4 linked regions of the Homo sapiens genome follow. Changing the gene in region 1 together with any one later gene gives a genetic interaction. Each region holds a gene or a part of one and is shown in the gene's direction. Other genes may lie near its edges.

Region 1 (3,441 bases):
CTGGCACTGAGGGGGGCTTTGCAGAGAGCACGGGCCCTGCATGTGACCTCCCTGGGCTTCAGGTTTTCACTCAGGGTCTGTGGAAGGGGCTGGCATAAATTCTCAGGAAATTGGGCTTCTGGGTTCCAATTTAGCCACTCTCCAGCTTGGTGACCTTGACCCTCCCGCTTTTCTGTAAGCTTTGGTTTCTTTTTTTCTTTTTTTTTTTTTTTGAGACAGAGTTTTGCTGTTGTTGCCCAGGCTGGAGTGCCAGTGGCCTGATCTTGGCTCACTGCAACCTCCACCTCCTAGGTTCAAGTGATTCTCCTACCTCAGCCTCCCAAGTAGCTGGGATTACAGGCACGCGCCACCATGCCCAGCTAATTTTTGTATATTTACTAGAGACGGGGTTTCACCATGTTGGCCAGGATGGTCTCAATCTCTTGACCTCATGATCTGCCTGCCTTGGCTTCCCAAAGTGCTGGGATTACAGGCATGAGCCACCGCGCCCGGCCTAGCTTCGGTTTCTTTACTGTTACGTGAGGCTGAAGAGAACCTCCCCAGTCTGTTGGAAAGGTCACTATGAGCAGTTGATGGGGAAGGATGTTCAGCACAAGAAGCAGTGCAGGTGGGAGAGTCCGGGTACTGATGTGGCCTCTTGGACCACCGCCAGTGCTGCCTTCTGTTCCCAGAAAGCCAGGGCAGACCTCCTTCGTGCTGCCTCTGCCATACAGAGCAAGGGGCATAAGTGAATCCTCCTGTCCACTGAGCTCAGGAAACTCATTCTAAGGGAAGAGATTGGCAGAAAGAGGGGGGCCAGGCGAGTTGGGCCTCCCACATCAGAATATCTTGATAAAGAGTCAGACCCCAGAGCCAGGCTTCCCTGGTTCATATCCCACCTGTGTCACTGGCACCAAGCCAGCCTCCTTCCCTGCTTCAATTTCTTCATCTGTGTACCGGGAATCATCATAGTACCTGCCTGCCAAGCTCTTAATAACATTTGTGGCACACAGTATGAGCTCGAATGTTCACTGCTGCTATTACCAGGCAAAATTTGGAAATACAGTGTTGCTTAAATTGGGTATCTATAGGCTGGGTGCAGTGGCTCACATCTGTAATCCCAGCACTTTGGGAGGCAAAGGTGGGTAGATCACTTGAGGTCAGGAGTTCGAGACCAGCCTGGGCAACATAGTGAAATCTCGACTCTACTAAAAATACAAAAATTAGCTGGGCGTGGTGGTACATGCTTCTAATCCCAGCTACTCGGGAGGTTGAGGCAGGAGAATCACTTGACCCAGGAAGCAGAGGTTTGCAGTGAGCAAAGATGGCGCCACTGCACTCCAGACTGGGCAATGGAGCCAGACTCTGTCTCAAAAAAAAAAAAAAAAAAAAAAAATTGGGTGTCTTACCTGGCAAAGTGATTTCATCTCCTGCTCACTCAAGTAGAAGTAGACTGCACTGCAAGGAGAAATAAAAAATATTTAAGTCCTCATAGTCATAAAGAAATACTGAACACATGGCAAGAGCACCTCACTTTTTTTTTTTTTTTTTTGAGATGAAGTCTTGCTCTGTCGCCCAGGCTGGAGTGCAGTGGCGCGATCTTAGCTCACTGCAGCCCCCACCTCCCAGGTTCAAGCGATTCTCCTGCCTCAGCCTCCCAAGTAGCTGGGATTACAGGCACGCGCCACCACGCCTGGCTAATTTTTGTATATTTAGTAGAGACAGGGTTTCACCATGTTAGTCAGGCTGGTCTCAAACTCCTGACCTCGTGATCTGCCCACCCTGGCATCCCAAAGTGCTGGGATTACAGGCATGAGCCACCGCACCTGGCCAAGAGCGCATCACTTTGAAGGCGCATCCACTGTGGGCCTGCCCTGGGCACCTACCCTTGTGTCTGGATAGCCTGGGAGAAGGGCTCTGTGATTGGCCAAGGGTGACTTAAGCTCTGCTGTGGAGAGGATGGGGAGACCCGCCTCCCAGGAGTGAGTCCTGGATGCGGAAGAGGGAGCGGCAGGGGGAGTCAGGGCTGGAAAAGTCCCAGCCTGCTCAGAAGGCCTGGAACGCTGGGATAAGAGGTTGGACTTTGTCCTTTTGGCAGCAGGGGGCCACGGAAGGGTGTTGCATGCTGAAGGGCCGTGGTCAGCCTGTTTTGGGGAGACTGTACGCTTCACTCCTGCCCCCTGGAGCTTCCAGGACTGCCTCATATCCTCCCCTCCCCCCAAAAAAGGTCAGGAATTGGGCTGGGCTGGCCTGGCTGTGGTGACCCTGGTCTTCTCCTGTCTCCAGAGAGATCTTGGTAGAGGAGAGCAACGTGCAGAGGGTGGACTCGCCAGTCACAGTGAGTACCTGCTGTCCCTGCAGAGCCAGGCCTGGTCTTTCAGGCACATGAAGTTTCCTCTTCATCTTGGGGGCTCTATAAGCCCAACCCTAAGCTCTTTTATCTGTCCTTTCCCTCACCTTCAACGGAGCACTGCTAAAAGAAGTGGGGGTTGCTGTGCACGTTGGCTCACACCTGTGATCCCAGCATTTTGGGAGGGCAAGGTGGGCACATCACTTGAGGTTAGGAGTTCGAGACCAGCCTGGCCAACATGGTGAAACCGTTTCTACTAAAAATACAAAAATTAGCCACGCGTGGTGGCACGTGCCTGTAATCCCAGCTACTTGGGAGGCTGAGGCAGGAGAATCGCTTGAACCCCAGAGTTGGAGATTGCAGTGAGCTGAGATCAGGCCACTGCACTCCAGCCTGGGTGACAGAGGGAGACTCCGTCTCAAAAAAAAACAAAAAAAAACAAAAAAAACAGGCCGGGCGCGGCGGCTCACGCCTGTAATCCCAGCACTTTGGGAGGCCGAGGCAGGTGGATCATGAGGTCAGGAGATCGAGACCATCCTGGCTAACATGGTGAAACCCCATCTCTACTAAAAATACAAAAAAATTAGCCAGGTGTGGTGGTGGACACCTGTAGTCCCAGCTACTCGGGAGGCTGAGGCAGGAGAATGACGTGAACCCAGGAGGCGGAGCTTGCAGTGAGCCGAGATCGCGCCACCGCACTCCAGGCTAGGCGACAGAGTGAGACTCCGTCTAAAAAAAAAAAAAAGAAAGGAAAGAAAAGAAAGGGGTTATGGGAAGGGACTTTGGATTTGTTAGTGGAGATTCTTGGCCAGGGCAGAAGGACTCCTATTTGGCGAGTGATTCTGCTCACATATCTCCAGGGCTCTGTGTTAGTAACTTGATTCTGGGTACTTTGTGGGGAGTAGAGAGAGGAAGGGGCCGGGACATCTACCTGGAAGGACTTAGTTCTAGCTCTTGCCTACAGAATAGTTGGTACTCAGCATAGGACAGTGGGTATGGTTCCAGACCAGACTGACTTGGGGTGGGAGAGGAGAATTTTGGTCCTAGGAAGTAGAAGTGCAGCCAAGAGTGATAAAGCTCACTAAAGCAGCGGGTGTTTGGAGGGTAGTCCC
Region 2 (3,500 bases), on another chromosome or scaffold:
TCCGGCATTTATGACTTTATAGTACACCTTTCTTCCCTCCTGTAGAAGATGCTTATAAGATCAGGATCCGTATTGATGATGAGCCTGCCAATCTGGACATTTTGGATACAGCTGGACAGGTATTAAATCCCAGAATGTTATGAGTAAAGGCTTTTTTACTCTAGCAAAGGGGAGGGGAAGGCCTACACAGAGAAGATCAATAGTTTATCTCTCTTAATTTTTCATGCACTCTGACTCAGGATAGCAGGTAATCGACATGCGTTTTCTTTAATCTGAAAGAAATAGCTAATTGTGTGTGTAGTTGGGCTAGATTGCGTCAATACATAATGACCCTTGTTTCCCTCTAGGCAGAGTTTACAGCCATGCGGGACCAGTATATGAGGGCAGGAGAAGGGTTTATCATCTGTTACTCTATCACGGATCGTCGAAGTTTCCATGAAGTTCGTGAGTTTAAACAGCTTATTTATCGAGTCCGACGTACTGACGATACACCTGTGGTTCTTGTGGGAAACAAGTCAGACCTCAAACAGCTAAGACAGGTGAGGATAGAGAAGAAAATACTGTCTATAATCTTATACAATTAGTCATTTTTGTTTCTTGGCTTACAGATTCTTGGCTTGGCTTACAGATTTTTTTGCCTTAAAATAGAAAATCAGGCTGGGTGAGGTGGCTCACACCAGTACTTTGCGGGGCCAAGGTGGGCAGGTTGCTTAAGGTCAGGAGTTTGAGACCAGCCTGAGCAACATGGCGAAACCCCATCTCTACAAAAAATACAAAAAAACATAGCTGGGCATAGTGGTGCATGCACATGTGGTCCCAGCTAGTTGGGAGGCTGAGGTGGGAGGATCCCTTGACCTGGGGAGGTGGAGGTTGCAGTGAGGTTGGGGCTACAGCTTACTGCAGCCTCTACCTCCCCAGCTCAAGCAATCATCCCAGTTCAGCTTTGAGGGTAGCTGGGACCACAGGCGTGTGCCACCACTCCCAGCTAATTGTTTTTACTTTTTGTGGAGACAGGATCTCACTATGTTGCCCAGGCTGATCTTGAACACCTGGACTCAAGTGATCCTCCTGCCTTGGCCTCCCAAAGTGTTGGGATTACAAGTGTGAGCCACAGCGCCTGGCTGGAAGTAGTTTGATAGTAGTCAAATTCATAATGCTTCTCTGTTAATCTCCATTGGAAAAAATTTATAGGGATTTATATATAACATGTTCATTGCAAGACTATTTATGGTAGAAGAAAATGAGAAACAATCTAGCTGTCCAAAAGTAGAAATTATGGCATATCCATAATTAGATGTATCAATTATGGGCTCCTAATAGTTTTCAATATTTTAGTGTAAGCATATATCTCTTTCCCTCCCTTTGTGTTTCTTTCTTTTTTTTTTTTTTTTTTTTTTGAGACAGAGTCTCACTCTGTTGCCTTGGCTGGAGTGCAGTGGCACAATCTCGGCTCACTGCAACCTCCTCCTCCTGGGTTCAAGTGAGTCTCCTGCCTTAGCCTCCTGAGTAGCTGGGATTACAGGCGCATGCCACCACGCCCGGCTAATTTTTTTTTGAGACGGAGTCTTGTCTGTCGCCCAGGCTGGCGTGCAGTGGCACGATCTCTGCTCACTGCAAGCTCTGCCTCCCAGGTTCATGCCATTCTTCTGCCTCAGCCTCCCGAGTAGCTGGGACTACAGGTGTCCGCCACCATGCCTGGCTAATTTTTTGTATTTTTAGTGAGATGGGGTTTCACCGTGTTAGCCAGGATGGTCTCGATCTCCTGACCTCGTGATCAGCCTGCCTCGGCCTCCCAAAGTGCTGGGATTACAGGCATGAGCCACCGCGCCCGGCCTAATTTTTGTATTTTTAAGTAGAGACGGGGTTTCACCATGTTGGTCAGGCTGGTCTCAAACTCCTGACCTCATGATCTTCCCACCTCGGCCTCCCAAAGTGCTGGGATTACAGGCGTGAGCCACCGCGCCCAGCTTTCTTTTTTTTTAATTTTTATTTTAATTTTGTTGTTTTGAGACAGAGTCTCACTCTGTTGCCCAGGCTGGAGTGCAGTGGCGCAATCTAGGCTCACTGCAACCTCTCTGACTCCTGAGTTCAAGCGATTCTCCTGCCTCAGCCTCCTGAGTAGCTAGGATTACATGTGCCTGCCACCACATCCAGCTAATTTTTGTATTTTAGTAGAGACGGGGTTTCACCATGTTGGCCGGGCTGGTCTTGAAGTCCTGACATCAGGTGATCCACCTACCTTGGCCTCCCAAAGTGCTGGGATTATAGATGTGAGCCACCACACCCAGCGTTTTTTTGTTTTGTGTTGTTTTTTAGACAGAGTTTCACTCTTATCACCCAGGCTGGAGTGCAGTGGCATGATGTTGGCTCACTGCAACCTCTGCCTCCTGGGTTCAAGCAATTCTCCTGCCTCAGCCTCCCAAGTAGCTGGGATTACAGGCGCCTGCCACCATGCCCAGCTAATTTTTCTTTTCTTTTTTTTTTTTTTGATATAAAAGCATTTTTAAACTTTATTATTAATACTCAGGACATTAGGAATTTCCAGATTTTTTTCAGTAGCATTTGTAGAACCACTTTTGGTAACAAATACAGTAGTTAGGAATATGCATCCAGTTCAGAATGCATAATAATGTTTCTCCTGAATCCTTTCCGGCTAAAAACAGGGCTGGCACTGTGATGAGATATAGAACGAGAATCTACAAAAAACACTGTAACATGTTTGTTTTTTCCCAGAGGCTACATCCTCTTTTGCTGGAATACTTTATAAATACATATTAAAAAGTAAGGCAACAACTCCAAACAGTCCAAGCTGTTTGCTCAACTCTTTTCCCAATTAGATTTGCAATCCCGGTGATCAGTTTCATGGTTGTATTGTTTAGTGTTTCTTTCTTATTTTAGTAGAGATGGGGTTTCACCGTGTTGGCCATGCTGGTCTTGAACTCCTGACCTCAGGTGATCTGCCTGCCTGCTTCAGCCTCCCAAAGTGCTGGGATTACAGGCATGAGCCACCGCACCCAACTTTTTTTTTTCTTGAGACAGGGTCTTGCTCTGTCACTGAGGCTGGAGTGCAGTGGCGCAAACATGGCTTACCGCAGCCTTGACCTCCTGGGCTCAAGTGATCCTCTTACCTTAGCCTCCTGAGTAGCTGGGACCACAGGTGTATACCACCACATCCAACTAATTTTTTTTTCTTTTTTTGAGACAGAGTCTGGCTCTGTCACCCAGGCTGGAGTGTGACACCTGGAGTGCAGTGCCGCGATCTTGGCTCACTGTAACCTCCGCCTCCCAGGTTTAAGCGATTCTCCTGCCTCAGCCTCACGAGTAACTGGGATTACAGGTGCCCAACACCATGCCCAGCTAGTTTTTTTTAAGTGGAGACAGGGTTTTGCCATGTTGACCAGGTTGGTCTCGAACCCCAGACCTCAAGTGATCCACCTGCCTCAGCCTCCCAAAGTGTTGGGATTACAGGCGTGAGCCACCGCTCCTGGCCCCAGCTAAAT
Region 3 (3,500 bases), on another chromosome or scaffold:
AAAAAACGGTTTCTTAAAAATTTATGTGTTGGGCTGGACATGGTGGCTCACATCTGTATCCTAGCACTTTGGGAGGATTGCTTGACCCAGGAGTTTGAGACTAGCCTGGGCAACATGGTGAGACTCTCTCTCTAGAAGAAAAACAAAAAATTAGCTAGGTGTGGTGATGCACACCCGTGCTCCCAGCTACTCAGGAGGGTGAGGCAGGAAGATCACTTGAGCCTGGGAGGTTGAGGCTGCAGTGAACCGAGATCACGCCATTGCATTCCAGCCTGGGCAACGGAGTGAGATCCTGTCTCAAAAAAACCCCAAAGAAACAAAAAAACAAAAAAAAACCAACTATGCGGAGCCAGGCATGGTGGCATGTGCCTGTAATTCCAGCTACTGGGATACCAAAAAAATTCTATGTGAAGGGTGAATTATATGGTATGTGAGTTATATCTCAATAAAGCTGTTATAAAAACAAATCTATGTGAACATGACAGTATAGCATAATGGTGGAAAGAATGTGTTTGAGAACTATGTAGACTTGGTTTTATATACCTACCTCTTGCCAGATAAGTGACCTTGGGCAAGTTATAGAACTAACTTCTCTGACTTTCAGTATCCTCATCTATAAATAAGAAATGTTTGTTATGAGTTTTTTTGTTTGCTTTTTTCTTTTTCAGAGATAGAATCTTGCTCTGTCACCCAGGCTGGAGTGCAGTGGCGGAATCTCGGCTCACTGCAAACTCCATCTCCCAGGTTCAAGCATTTCTCATGCCTCTGCCTCCTGAGTAGCTGCGACTACTGGCGCAAGCCATCATGCTCGGCTAATTTTTTGTATTTTTAATAGAGACAGGGTTTCGTCATGTTGCCAGGCTGGTCTCGAACTCCTGACCTCAGACAGTCTGCCCGCCTTGGCCTCCCAAAGTGCTGGGATTACAGGTTATGAGCCACTATACCTGGTCTGTTATGAGTTTCAAATGAAATTAAATGAGATAATTTATGTTCATCACTTATCAAGTCTTTTGTAATTAATAAGCCCTCAGTAGTGGGTAGATTTTATCATCATTAGCTTTTATAATCTAATTACACTTACATGCAAAAAATAAATTTTAAAAAGTTGAGCAAATATGGAATTAGCCACAGCTTGAAATATATGTGTCTTTTAACTCTGCTCTTTCATTCCTTGAAACCTGCAGCTGGTCATCAATGCTGCTTTGGGATTTGACACATTTGTTGTCATGAGACATGGTCTGAAGAAACCAAAGCAGCAAGGAGCTGGGGACTTGTGTCCAAACCACCCTGTGGCATCTGCTGACCTCCTGGGCTCATCGCTTTTTGCCAACATCCCTGGTTACAAGCTTGGCTGCTACTTCTGCAATGATGTGGTGGCCCCAGGAGATGTAAGTGGATTTCTCTATAGTTCCAAATATTTCCTATCACCAACTTGTACACTGAGGCAGACCGACTTGGCCCTTTCATTTATGACTATTTAAATATTATCTTTTAACAAAGAGAAGAATTCTCCAATTTGGGGAGGATGGCATTATCTCATTATGAACCTTGACTGGCGTCATCAACTGTACACCTGTTCCTTGTTCACCAATATAAACGCGGCTACAAACCATATTTTTGGAAAGCTTATTGAGGAAACCACAGCAGACTAGTCCCTGATAGCACTCCGTATTGTCTCCGGTGCTTCTCTTAGTCAAGATAACATTACAAATCAGGAGTCTAAAGACCAGATTCCATCAATGGCTTGACACTGCCTCCCAGGTAGTTCTAAAAAGTCTCTTAGGTTCCCTCTACCTTTGCAAAATAGGAGTGATGTGTAGGCTTGTCAGATTTAGTAAGTAAAAATATAGGATTCCCAGCTAACTTTGAATTTCAGTTAATAATGAATTCTTTTTTTTTTTTTTTTGAGACAGAGTTTCGCCCTGTCACCCAGGCTCGAGTGCAGTGGCACAATCTCGGCTCCCTGCAACCTCTGCCTCCTGGGTTCAAGTGATTCTCCTGCCTCAGCCTCCTGAGTAGCTGAGATTACAGGTGTGTGCCACCATGCCCAGCTAATTTTTGTATTTTTAGTAGAGACGGGGTTTCACCATGTTGGTCTGGCTGGTCTCGAACTCCTGACCTCGTGATCCACCTGCCTCAGTCTCCCAAAGTGCTGGGATTACAGGTGTGAGCCACCACGCTTAGCCAATAATGAATAATTTTTTGGTATATGTCCCATGCAATATTCAAGACCCACTTATACTAAAAATTTATTTATCTGAAATTCAAATTTAACTGAGTGTCTTGTATTCTCCCTAGCAATGCTAATAGAGGAGGGAAGAATACCTGCCCTGTCAACTCACAGTGCAAAGTGGGTCAAGTGCGACAGTGCTTTGAACAGCAAGACTACACTGTACAAATTAAGATTCTATGACTTTCAGAACTCCACACAAGTCAGTCTGTATGTAGGTCTGTTCCTTTATCAGAACAGATAACGATTTCCAGTGAAACAATGCAGAGATGTTTTCTGTAACCTCCCCTCTATTTTTCCTTTGTTTTAAAACTTTTCCCTTAATAACTCATATCTCTTTTGGATGACTGGCTTTTATGCCCTCCCAATATAAAGAAAAGAAGATGACCATTCTCTTTTATGGAGAAAGATGGCTTGATGATCTCTGTTATGGTGTTATAATATATAGCTGGTCTTGTTATTTAGTGATTGTCAACAAATACGATTAGTGGTCCCTTGCAGTAAAGTCCCATCTGCTCATAAGGTAAAATTTTTATAGAGTCAAAAATATCTCTAACAACCTCTTAATTTGCCCAGAGTTGGATGGTTAGACTCTCTTTGGTTGAACCAGCAAAGGCTTGTGCTTAGAGCCATGTTGTAGAAAAAAAAAATACTTGTAGTAAACCCTAGAATCACACAGAGAGGTGATGCCCATGTTGTGAGAGGCACATAGGAACTGAGGGCCGCAGGAATAGTAAATTGTTGCTCCCATCTCACGGTCACTTTGAGGTGTTAGCTCAGTTAAAATGGCAGGGCAGAATCATTTGCACTTTTCAAATCATTGTTCCTTTCTGTGTCTCTGTCACTTAACTACCAAGCACAGTAGAACTGAATTGAGTCACTTAAAGGAACACATGATGCAGTTCCATTATATGAGGCAGCTAAGCCCTCATTTTTGGTTAATATCCCCCAATCTGTTTAGGCTACTGATCCTTTTTAGCATATCACCTCATTTAGTTACCTAAATTGTATATTTTGTTTATCTTGATAATCTCAAGAAATGATGTACTTGAGGCTGGATGTTCTTTGCCAACAATGAGCATCTGGTTATAATTTAAAGCTTTGTCACAGAGGATTTCATACTTGAGACAGCTAGAGTTGAATGGAGTAGAACGTTCTGCACACACCAATGATTGTTTCTTTGCAGTCAACCAGAGACCGGACCTTGGACCAGCAGTGCACTGTGAGTCGTCCAGGACTGGCCGTGATTGCAGGAGCCCTGGCCGTGGAA
Region 4 (3,500 bases), on another chromosome or scaffold:
GCAAGGGGAAAGGGCCCAGGGAGCCGGCTCATGACGATGAGCCTGTCTGAAGCTTCAACGCGGGCTGTCCGGCAGTCTGCATTCCTGCCGAGTTCCTCAGCCCTCTGTTGGGTCACCTTCCATAGAGGCAGCTTAGTCCTCAGTTCAGTGAGCATGGAGTGGAGACTGCTTGAGGGGTGCTGAGCAAAGCCCTGCCTCTTACAGGATGAAGGTGCTCTCCAGAAGGGACACTGGAAAGTATTCCAAGGCGAGTCGAATTCCCAACTGAGGGAGCTTTGTGGAAATAAGCCCGCCCAGCCCCACTTCTGGAGACGTTCCCATTCAGTAGGTCCGAGCTGTCTTAAAGAGAAACCAAAGTGGGGATATTAATGGTATCCAAAGTGAGATCTACCCCACCCTCCCTCCTCAAAGGAGGTCAGATCAAGAAAGCCCAAGCCCGGCCTGGCAATTGGGACCTTTCTTCTCACTCCAGCCCAGGGTGAAGGTGGACAAGTCACTTTGACCCTTCAGGCTTCTGAGCTGTTGTTTCTGAATTCAGTGAATATTTACTGAGTGCATAGAATATGCTAGATATTCTGGGCTAAAGGTTGAAGGGGGGGTGAGTTTTAAGGGTTTCTGCTCTTGCTTCCAGATTGCTTTCAAATCTGGAAAGGACACCAGTGGTTTGTGTGTTAGACCCACACTGCCGTAGCACAGAATACAAGAAACTGGCTGAGAGCTCCAATAGGCTTTTAACAGTAATTTCTGGCTTCACGTATTTAGTTTCATAACTCATGATTTTTCAAAAACTTCTGGTTTGAAGACACCGATTGCCGAAAGTCCATTGTGCTGCATAATTACACTTGGTCCACGTGACAGCACTAACATGTTCTGAAATGTTTTTAGAAGTAGTCTCAGCAAAGATGAAGGATTCCTCCCTGTTTGAAAAGAAAATATTCTTTGTTTTTTCTTTGATCTAAGCTCTAAGACTAGCAGCTAGCATCTGAAACTTTTTTGACGAGAGTGACAAACCAACTCTAATATTAAAGGCAATTGATGATTATGGGCACTGAAGGGAAGGTAACCCCAGGCTGGTGCCCCGGAATAGGGATGGGTCACAATGTTGAGGACATTTCGCCTGTTGCAGAACCCACCTGCAACACAGTGTGGCCCTTGCCATGTGACTTGTGTGTGTGCCTGTGTGTCTGTGTGTGCGTGTTTTAATTTTGACTTCATAAGTACTCTAGTTATGAGCTTATTTAACATTGGGTTTTACTAATAGGGGTATGTGTTGAGAAAATTTCAAAGTTTTAGAATATGGTTCACCCACATGTTGCTTCCCTGTAAATATAATTTTTAAAACCAGATTCTGGGCCGGGCATGGTGGCTCACCTCTATAATCCCAAAACGTTGGGAGGCCGAGGCAGGCGAATCATGAAGCCAGGAGTTTGAGACCAGGCTGACCAACACGGTGAAACCCAGTCTCTACTAAAAATACAAAAAAAATTAGCTGGGCGTGGTGGCAGGTGCCTGTAATCCCAGCTACTCAGGAGGCTGAGGCAGGAGAATTGCTTGAACCCAGGAGGCAGAGGTTGCAGTGAGCCAAGATCGCACCATTGCACTCCAGCCCGCGCGACAGTGTGAGACTCCATCTCAAAAAAAAAAAAAAAAAAACAGATTCTGTTCCTCAGATCCATTCCATTTTTGTTTTCCTTTATCACTTATGGACATTTGAAATTATGGTAATAAACATTGTTAGTCTCAGTTAATTATTACTGGTTTATTCTTGAACCACTAATCCATAGAGAATAGAGTGTAAATCTTAACTTGTTCCTGTAGGCCATCCCCATTAAACATCATAGTGTTTTCTCATTCGTTCTTTTTCGTTTTCCTCCTACAGGAATGAATTTTCTAAGAAAATTCCAGCAGTTGGCTCTTTGGACGACATCTCTAGATTGTCCTCCATTGGGCCCATAGGCACAAGCTGGCCAGTTTGAATTTGGGCAAGAATCCAGGCATTGGAACTTATTCAAATAACTAGTTTGCCTGTAATTTTCACTTTTTCAGAGTCATCTGATAAAGCTTTCTTGCTACACATTTAGATAGATACACTCAATCCAGTTGTCTAGAAAGTTCCCTGAGCCAGCTGGGAGCAGGAGGGGTAGTTGGGGCCAGGAATATTGGGGGTGTGTTTACTGAGCCCCTAGAAAGTAAGTGCTAGATTTGACATTTCAATCCCTGAAGGCCCTGAAGTTCAGTATCAAATGACTGGTCCTGTGGACTGAGCATCTGTGAATTGCATATGCTTAGAGTAAATTTTACTCCTACCAGTTTCAGCAGCTTGCTTTAGCAAGCAGTATGGAAACACTAACATGGGGGAGTAGAATTTCTCTCTCTGATCCAAGTTTTATCTCATTCTGGTGGGTTTTCAAGGAGAGACTCGGAGTCCAAGTGTCCTTTCTGAATATATCTGGAACTTCTCATTAACAAAAGACTCAAGTTATAATTTAGGGGACAAGGCACCCAATGAGAATGCCTTGCAGGCAGCCCTAAGTACACCTGCAATTACACCATTACTAGCGCGGCAGCACACATGGCCCTGACTTAGTTTAAATAATTACGTAAGTCAACCATGATTGTTTGCCCTTTGCATAGAAGGGCAAGTATTGGTACCTGTTACAACTTAGGCTTTTTTTTCTTTATGTTTGAGCCATGATGAGTGATTTACACTGTTGCATCCATATGTTGAGATGTAAGAATAAATTAGACTTGGTAATTGCCCTTAAGTGTCTGGAAGTCAACTGGGGAAAGAGAGCTAGAGATAATAAGTGTGAAACAATGTCACAGAATCAATGACGGAACTCTTCCCAGGACAAAGGATGACTTTTGAGTTCAGTCTTTGCCTTTAATTCTACATGGGGAGGAGAGCACGTTTAGCCACAAATGGAAGGGATTACTCATTTGAGCTATTTGGTTATATGATTATTTCCCCAGAGAATAGGATGTGCAGGGCATTACACAAGCAGTGCCAATAGCAGCAAAGTTCTTGAGAGTGCTAGTAATTCAAATGGCAGGAAGAGAAGGAATAAATGGTAAGGCTACCTACAGTTCACAGAGAGCTCCATCCTCACTGTGGCTTTGGATTTTGTCCTGTGTGAAAGAGAAGTGACTGTGAACTGACATGCTGTGTTTGGTGTTTTAGAAAGATGGCTGCAGCAGCGGTTTGGGGAATGGACTGCAGGAGTGGCATTGGAAACAGGAAGGTTCATGACTATTGCCAGAGACAGAGGATGAAGCAGGAGCAAGGAAGATTCAGGACAGGGGACTCCGGGGCTGATCAGGAGGCAGAACTGGTTGATAAGTATATGTAGCAGCATAAGAAAGAAAGAATCCCAGATTGACACCCAGGCTTCTCACTTGGAAGCCTGGATAGATACTGAATGCAATCACAAAGGCTGGGAAGTCAATGGGACTGCAGGGAAGGGAAGGGAAGGGAGGAGAAGAGGAAGGGCAGGAGGGTC

What was found.
Region 2: changes in PPP4C (region 1) and RIT1 together harm fitness more than expected from each alone (negative genetic interaction), as found in Homo sapiens cells (one large-scale study listed by BioGRID).
Region 3: of PPP4C (region 1) and ATG7, changing one suppresses a phenotype caused by changing the other (phenotypic suppression), as found in Homo sapiens cells (one large-scale study listed by BioGRID).
Region 4: changes in PPP4C (region 1) and EGFR together harm fitness more than expected from each alone (negative genetic interaction), as found in Homo sapiens cells (one large-scale study listed by BioGRID).

Annotation. Positions count from the first base shown.
Region 1 is NC_000016.10:30,078,994-30,082,434, forward strand, and holds part of PPP4C (serine/threonine-protein phosphatase 4 catalytic subunit), read left to right. Parts: intron 1-2,206; exon of another isoform or gene 2,207-2,265; coding exon 2,266-2,317; intron 2,318-3,441. UniProt on the Homo sapiens protein: Protein phosphatase that is involved in many processes such as microtubule organization at centrosomes, maturation of spliceosomal snRNPs, apoptosis, DNA repair, tumor necrosis factor (TNF)-alpha signaling, activation of c-Jun N-terminal kinase MAPK8, regulation of histone acetylation, DNA damage checkpoint signaling, NF-kappa-B activation and cell migration.
Region 2 is NC_000001.11:155,901,350-155,904,849, reverse strand, and holds part of RIT1 (GTP-binding protein Rit1), read left to right. Parts: intron 1-45; coding exon 46-119; intron 120-347; coding exon 348-539; intron 540-3,500.
Region 3 is NC_000003.12:11,359,397-11,362,896, forward strand, and holds part of ATG7 (ubiquitin-like modifier-activating enzyme ATG7), read left to right. Parts: intron 1-1,184; coding exon 1,185-1,388; intron 1,389-3,416; coding exon 3,417-3,500. UniProt on the Homo sapiens protein: E1-like activating enzyme involved in the 2 ubiquitin-like systems required for cytoplasm to vacuole transport (Cvt) and autophagy.
Region 4 is NC_000007.14:55,022,017-55,025,516, forward strand, and holds part of EGFR (epidermal growth factor receptor isoform a precursor), read left to right. Parts: intron 1-3,500. UniProt on the Homo sapiens protein: Receptor tyrosine kinase binding ligands of the EGF family and activating several signaling cascades to convert extracellular cues into appropriate cellular responses.